Homo sapiens: one gene and its partner. The protein of the gene in region 1 interacts with the protein of each later gene in a pairwise test. Each region holds a gene or a part of one and is shown in the gene's direction. Other genes may lie near its edges.

Region 1 (3,753 bases):
GGAATGCATTAGCTTTATTTCTTAATATTCTTAATAGTCCTGGTCAATGGAAAACTGTAGCAACCCTACAAAGACAAGACTAAACAAAAACCCAAATCCTACAGGAATGGATATTTGGGCACCTCCTCCAGCCAAGGTGTTGGCAGTGGCAAAGGGGAAATGGAATGGATAATGGAAGAGGGCATATATGATTTCCACTTTAGGATGGGCCGAGCGCGGTGACTCATAACTGTAATCCCAGCACTTTGGGAGGCCAGGTTGGGCGGATGACTTGAGGTCAGGAGTCCGAGACTAGGCTGGCCAACATGGTGAAATCCCATCTCTACTAAAAACTACAAAAAATTAGCTGGGTGTGGTGGCACATGCCTGTAATCCCAGCTACTCAGGAGGCTGAGGCAGGAGAATCACTTGAACCTGGGAGGTAGAGGAGGTTGCAGTGAACCAAGATAGCACCACTGCACTCCAGCCTGGCCGACGCAGTGAGACTCTGTCTGAAAAAAAAGAAACAAAAAATGGATGCTGAGGGGTGGACTGTGCTGGATGTTTCCTGTCTGCCTCTCTCCCTGCCGGTCCACTCTCTGCCTTTCACCAGCCTGCTGTTTGCTGCTGTGTGATTTACATACAACCATCTGGCTTCCTGCTGGGTTAGGCCAATGGAGAGCCCAGCAAGGAGGGAGGGAGGACAGTGGAGTAAGGATATTTATCCTCCTGATTTTCTTGCTGTGAAGTCTCCTTGGGCAGTCTGTGTCCTTGGATGGATGATACATGCTCTTTTCCAGGTGGCCTGGGCCACAGATACCCTCTCCTTCTAGGTTCTGGTAACCTTCCCTTCCCTCCTCACTTGGTTAGGTGTGGTGATGGCTCAGCTCTGGATTCCTGCACTATCCTTGTAGTTTTACTACACTCTGCCTACATCTCTATACTTCCTTTTATAAATAAATCCTTCTCAACATATCCCAGTTTGAGTGTGCCTTCTGATTCTTGTTGGGATCCTGACTGATAATACTTACCTTTATGATCCAGGGACTTTAAAAGATGTTATCTGATTGATTCTTCACCACGATCCTATTATAATCAGCCTTCTTGATTACCCTCTTACTGTATACCTGGTATTGGTCTAGGAGTTTTACATGAATCGACTCAATTAGTCCTCACCGTTGGCTTACATGTTAGGCATCCTATTATTCCCATTTTACAGACGAGGAAACTAAAGCACAGAACATTTACTAGTTTACTCAAAGTCACAAAGTTAGACATTTATAGGGCTTCTCAAAGGGAGTACATACTATTTACCTCAGTTTTACAGTTAGAAAAACTAAGACTTAGAGAAGTAAAGGGACTTATCCAAGATGTAGTCAGCCAGGTGACTAGGGCTAAACCCCAGGTCTGTCTCCCCTCAAAGTGAATGCTCACCTCTAAGGTACTCTGCTGCCTCCAGAATATTTTCGGATGTCAATATGAGTATGAGCTGATGGGGAAATGTAGGTTCTATGAAAATAAAATATCCTTTTGAAATTCAAAATTTATTTATGTTTTTTTTTTGACAGAGTCTCACTCTGTCACCAGGGCTGGAGTGCAGTGGTGCAATCTCAGCTCACTGCAGCCTCCATCTCCCAGGCTCAAGGGATCCTCCCACCTCAGCCTCCTGAGTATTGAAGACTACAGGCATGCACCACCATGCCTGGCTAATTTTTTTAAAAAGTTTTTTGGGGTAGACATGGGGTTCTGCCATGTTGCCCAGGCTGATCTCGAACTCCTGGGCTCAAGCGATCTGCCTGCTTCGGCCTCCCAAGGTGCTGGGATTAGCGGCATGAGCCACCACCCTTGGCTTATTTATGGTCTTTAAAAAGGAAAATCATCTCACTTCAATAAAGATGAAGCTTGACAATGAAAGTCTAGGCATAACCTAGACTTACTAGCTAGTTCTTTCTTCAAATATTCAGTTTATCTTTAAGCTTATTCCATAGTAAGAGCCTATGTTTTATGGAATACTATGCAGCCATAAAAACGAATGAGTTCATGTCCTTTGCAGGGACATGGATGAAGCTGGAAGCCATCATTCTCAGCAAACTAACACAGGAACAGAAAGCCCAACACTGCATATTCTCACTCATAAGTGGGAGTTGAACAATGAGAATATATGGACACAGAGAGGGGAACATCACACACCAGGGCCTGTTGTGGGGTGGAGGGCAAGGGGAGGGAGAGCATTAGGACAAATACCTAATGCATGCGGGGCTTAAAATCTAGATGATGGTTTGATAGGTGCAGCAAACTACCATGGCACATATATATCTATGTAACAAACCTGCTTGTTCTGCACATGTATCCCAGAACTTAAAGTAAAATTAAAAAAAAAAAGAAAGAAAGAAATACCAATACCTAGATTCCTCCCCAGACAGTCTAATTTTTTTGGTCTGGGGTATGCAGGGTATGACCTGTACACCAGAATATTTTTTTTAAAGCTCCTCAGATAATTCTAACATGCAGCTAAGGTTTAGAACAATTTTTAATTACAATAAATACGTAAAAGAATAAAAATCCCACTGAAATGTTGATGGAATTTTTAAAAAGAGCCTATGTTTTAAACATTTCAATTTAAAAAAATATGACAGATCTAATTCAAAATCCCTGCTAACAGATTTCCTAGGAGAGCATCACTTCTGGAATCCTATTCTCTTGTATATTTGTTAGCGAACATTAGCCCTGACAAAGGTAAAAGAGAATACACTGGTCATTTATCACTCACAGACTGAGGAAATGCAAAAACCAGGCCAGAGGAGAAGAGCCTGAGAAGGGAAACCACACTGGCCAAGGTGCCAGAAACTTATTTTTTGCTTTAGTGACAGTTATTTGTCTTCCACTAGTGAAGGAAGGCACGATCGAGACTTTCATACGCTTTATAATAATTCGTCTCACCCTTCCCTTAGAGACTCCCTCAATATCACGTACTCATGGCTTTCTAACAGCTGAGAAATGATCTGCTTTTCAGATAACACCATCCAGTCGGTTTTCTGTTGCTGCTGTTGCTGTTCAGTGCAGAAGCGGTAAGTCTACTTCCGAGGGCAATTTCTTGAAAATTAATTAATTCCGTTTCTTTATTACCTGTGGAGTCACCATGTCTCTTTGCACCCGCTGTTCTCTCTACCTGGGAACCTTCTCCCATTTTCTCCCTGTGGAATGCCTATTTGTTTACAGGTCTAGGTCAAATGTCAGGTCATCTGGGATCCTTTCCTGATCCTTTAGATTTCATTGTTCATTCCATTGCATTCCCACCGTGTGCGGCATTGTTCTCCACTTAATTTTTATTTCATGTATGTTGTTTATAGGTCTGTGCTCCAATACGTATTTTTTCCCTTTAAGGGCAAGAATCCTATCTTAGTTATCTATCTCCCCAAAACTACCGGTGTATCTTATACTTTGGTGGCAGTAAATGACTCTGTAAGAATTAAATCCAAGGCAGCATGTTAACAGAAAAAGCTAACATTTAACAGGAGCTTCCTGTATATCAGATACTATGCTAAAAGATTTATGTTTATTAACTCATACAGTTCTCAAAACCACCTACTTTTTTTTTTTATGATCCCCATTTTACAGATGAGGAAATTGAAGATTAGAGAGGTTACATTGCTTACCCAAGGCCACACTATGAAATGGTGGAGCTGGGATTCAAACTCTTGTTCCTAATCACTATACCATGTCTATTTATAACAAAAAGACACCATCAAATGAGGTAATGCATATAAAATGACA
Region 2 (3,753 bases), on another chromosome or scaffold:
GAGCTGGGAGAGGCTGGGTGTTTTCTGTTATTTTGAAAGTTCTCAGTTGAACTGATCAAACACTTAGCAGAAGAAAAACTCATTATTCTCTGCAAATAGCAAATATATTTTGTGATCATACGTGGAAGAATGACTAGAGAAATCAGTGCGATTGGTTGGTGTCTTGAGCTGGTCACCTTGATCTCTCTTTTCTTTCTTTGGGAGAGGCACTTGTCCTGTGAGAGGCCAGGATAGGGAGGGCACCTCCTAGCTCCTGGGGCACTCGCTGTCATCCTGAGTCATGGGTCAGAGCTGCATCAACTGGGGAGAAGACCCAGGGCCATTTCTGACTCTGATAATGTAGCTGCTTTTTTATTCCAAAGTAAGAAATTTGAAGACTGTTTTTGGGGAATGCAGCAGAACAGGCTTTTCTCGTGACTGGGCTTACCTTTTAGTTTCAGGAATTCTTTATCTCACGCTGTGCACTTGTGCCACTGGGCTGGGACGCTGGCATCGCTCTTTGCCATGGAGCATGCTGTGAGACATGAATCCCTTAGTAAACATAGTTGGTATTCCACACTAGTACCCAGCATTTCAGGAAACAAAATACAACCTTTTGAAGGAGGTGTTTCTTCTGTGTGATAGGAGAATAAAAAGGACCGCCATTTTAAATACAGGTGTATGTAATTATACTGGTAGGAATAGTTTTAAAATTGACATATCTATATGACATACCTTCCCTCACTTTGAAGCTAACCTTTTACGTATTTGTTTTTTCCCATTTTCTTAGAATTTCTTCCCAGAACAGATGGTTACTTGGTGCCAGCAGTCAAATGGCAGTCAAACCCAGCTTTTGCAGGTACTGGGCCACAATAGATCTCTGCTGAAATAGACTTTCTGAATAGAAATCCTCTTGGAACTGAATGGCAGCATTGTAAAAAACCTAAAGAGATCGCATCTTTCACCATTTATAACCTTGGCTCTTAAGCCGGAGGGGTGGTTGGGGGGAGGGTTTAGAGTAACCAGAAATTAAAAGTTTCCTTGGAAAATCTGTGTGTAGCTGGGTTCCTTCTAAGCCAAACAGGCACTTACACGATGCCCTTGCTCTGACTTAGAAGAGTCCAGTGATGCCACTGCTGAGTGTGGGCCAGGGGGTGCATGGAGAAACCCCAGTCTCAGGGCTCCCTCCCCAGCTCCTTTCTGAGCAGGGGTCCCAGGTCAGGCCACCGCCTAGCTGCTTGGAAATCTCTGCAGAAGCACAGAGTCTATAGTAAAAGATGATCGGGTTACCACAACAGACTTTTAAAAGTAACTTGCCATATATTACAAATAAAGAAACCTGCTTTAATTGTCCTGATTCATAAAGTCTGTTCTAAGAAAACCTGGTCTCTCCCCACCTCCTCTTCCAGTGGAGGGAGCCACCAGGGCCTCTGTGCCCAGCTCTCACACACACTCCTCCGGGGAAGCTGGGAGTGGGGAATGGGAATGTTACAGCTACACCCTAAAAATGTGCCTGTGTACATGTTAAAAGTGAGAGAATAAACCATTTCCTAAGGCCACCAACAAGATCCAGGTGACATTACATGTAAGAGAAACTACTAAAATGTAGTTCCTACAGAATTCTCCTCATAAGCCCTTTTTCTACGTTGTTATCACCAAATTTGTTTCAGCATCTAAAAGATAAGAGTTTCAGAGCTCTGTTCTGGTGGTGTCTTCAGAAGCCCTTCTGACCATAGCATGTGTCTGTTCTGGCGAGAGGTGTCAGCACTAAGTTACCACCTATACACAGTGAACAGTGAAATAGCAGATTCTGTTTTAATTGCCTTGACTTTGAGAGGATCCATGCGCTTTGTGAAGATGTGCAGTGATCTCTTGAGACTCAAGAAGGACTGACCCAGGTGCACCAGGGCTCTGTCCGACGTGCCTTTCCCACCTGGGGGAAAAGAGCTTTGTCCCCTCCCAGTCTAGTAGCAGGACCTGCCAGCATCACCTCCCCAACTTCGCTCCATGACCTGGCCCTTGGCCTGTCTTCCCTTTGATGAAAAGCGTAGTTTCTTGTTTTGTTTTGTTTTGATAAAGCCTTTATTCTTAAGGCTGCCTGTGGGAAGAGTTAGCTGGAACAGGGGGACATCACCAGGATGTCCTGCACCTGGGTGCATCACTTGCGGACACATGACACCTTTTATGTGACCCTTGACTGGAGGGGTGCCTGGGTAAAAGTGGCCACTACATACTCACTGTCAGTCTCCAGAGTCCCAATCACTTGGTCATGGCACTTGCTCTTGCCCTCAGTCTGATATCAGACTGGATCCTTCAGTGCACTATCTTATAGGGAAATTCATGACTCGTGTTATCACCAGTGTTGGAAAGGTCCATTTGCTTGCATATGTTTAAATACGAATTATGTTCTATGCAACACGAATTGAGATGGGATTTTAAGACTTTGGAAAGGAGAACACTCTCATTTTGATCCAAAAAGGAGTCTTTTAATAATTCAGAAAATGTCAGCTATGCTGATAACATGTCTGCTTTAATTATTTTAGATTAGCATTATGTGATTTTAAAAATTTGTTCTTCAACAGAATTTTCTGAACTCCAGTAGTTGTCCTGAAATTCAAGGGTTTTTGCATGTGAAAGAGCTGGGAAAGAAATCATGGAAAAAGCTGTATGTGTGTTTGCGGAGATCTGGCCTTTATTGCTCCACCAAGGGAACTTCAAAGGTGAGCTTTAAAAGCTACCACCACCAGCCCTAATTCTGCCACAGTCACTCCCCCCAGGTCCTCAGAGTGAACCTGGGCTTCATTTTTAAATGCACCTTAGACTCCTCCAAGCTCAGGACAACTTCTTAATAAGCTAATTGTGCAGCAGCTGAACTTGGAGTCACAGGTTTCCTGGTCTCGCTCAGAAACTAGGTAATAAATAATACAGGCCTAAGAACCCCACCTGCCTAGCCCCACCCCCACTGCGGGTTGGGAGCAGACACCCCTGGCTGCCCCATCACTTCAGAGACTGGCCTAGTTCTCATAAGTTGGGATTTAAGCTAGCTGTAAAGATGTTTGATAGACTATTGCCACCCTAATGCCAGTGTAACTTTATGTATCATAGATATTTCATGAAATAAACTGCAGGCTTGCATGTATCCCCAGTGAGAAGAAGGTGGGAGATGGAAAACAGCTGCAGGCCCTCAAAAGAGAGCTTAGGCCGGAGGCTCCTTTGCTCCCATGTACACTCTTGTCTGCTCTCTTCTTGTGCTGTCCACATATACCCTGTGGCAGGAGCCTTGTCCACCCAATACCTGGCTGAGCACTTACCATCTGAGGGCTGTGGTCTCTTTTGCTCTGGCCAGCAGAGGTGAAAGGGAGCTGGCGGGACCCCAGCACAGGTGTTGAGCATCTGGGAACCGGCTCTGGGAAGGTGTTGGGGCCGGCTCTGGGAAGTCAGCAGCTGCCGACACCTGGGCCAGAGAGAAGGGGCGTCTGCAGAGAGGGGCTTTGAACTGACACAGGGCATGGTAGCTTCCTGACCTCCCAGCTCTGCTGTGTGGCCCGCTCACTGTCCTCGTGTGTGCTGAAGTTGGGAGGGTATTTCGTAGAGCAGGAAACAGAGCTGGGCTGGAGAGTTGAGGAGGAGAAGGGTGGGACAAGCAAGCTACCAGTGGGAAAACCCAAAGTACGGTTGGACTCTGGACTCACAACAAACCAAAGGCAGACAGGCCCTGTGCTCTTAACTCTGACCTTTGGGTTATAGATTTTCTCCTGCTTTTTATCTTGAATA

What was found. Proteins that work in one complex are often made in the same cells at the same time.
Region 2: the proteins of TXK (region 1) and GRB10 interact in binary tests that used the Homo sapiens proteins (3 or more experiments, as listed by UniProt).

Annotation. Positions count from the first base shown.
Region 1 is NC_000004.12:48,113,642-48,117,394, reverse strand, and holds part of TXK (tyrosine-protein kinase TXK), read left to right. Parts: intron 1-2,992; coding exon 2,993-3,047; intron 3,048-3,054; exon of another isoform or gene 3,055-3,653; coding exon of another isoform or gene 3,654-3,733; intron 3,734-3,753. UniProt on the Homo sapiens protein: Non-receptor tyrosine kinase that plays a redundant role with ITK in regulation of the adaptive immune response. Regulates the development, function and differentiation of conventional T-cells and nonconventional NKT-cells.
Region 2 is NC_000007.14:50,615,156-50,618,908, reverse strand, and holds part of GRB10 (growth factor receptor-bound protein 10), read left to right. Parts: intron 1-769; coding exon 770-838; intron 839-2,561; coding exon 2,562-2,699; intron 2,700-3,753.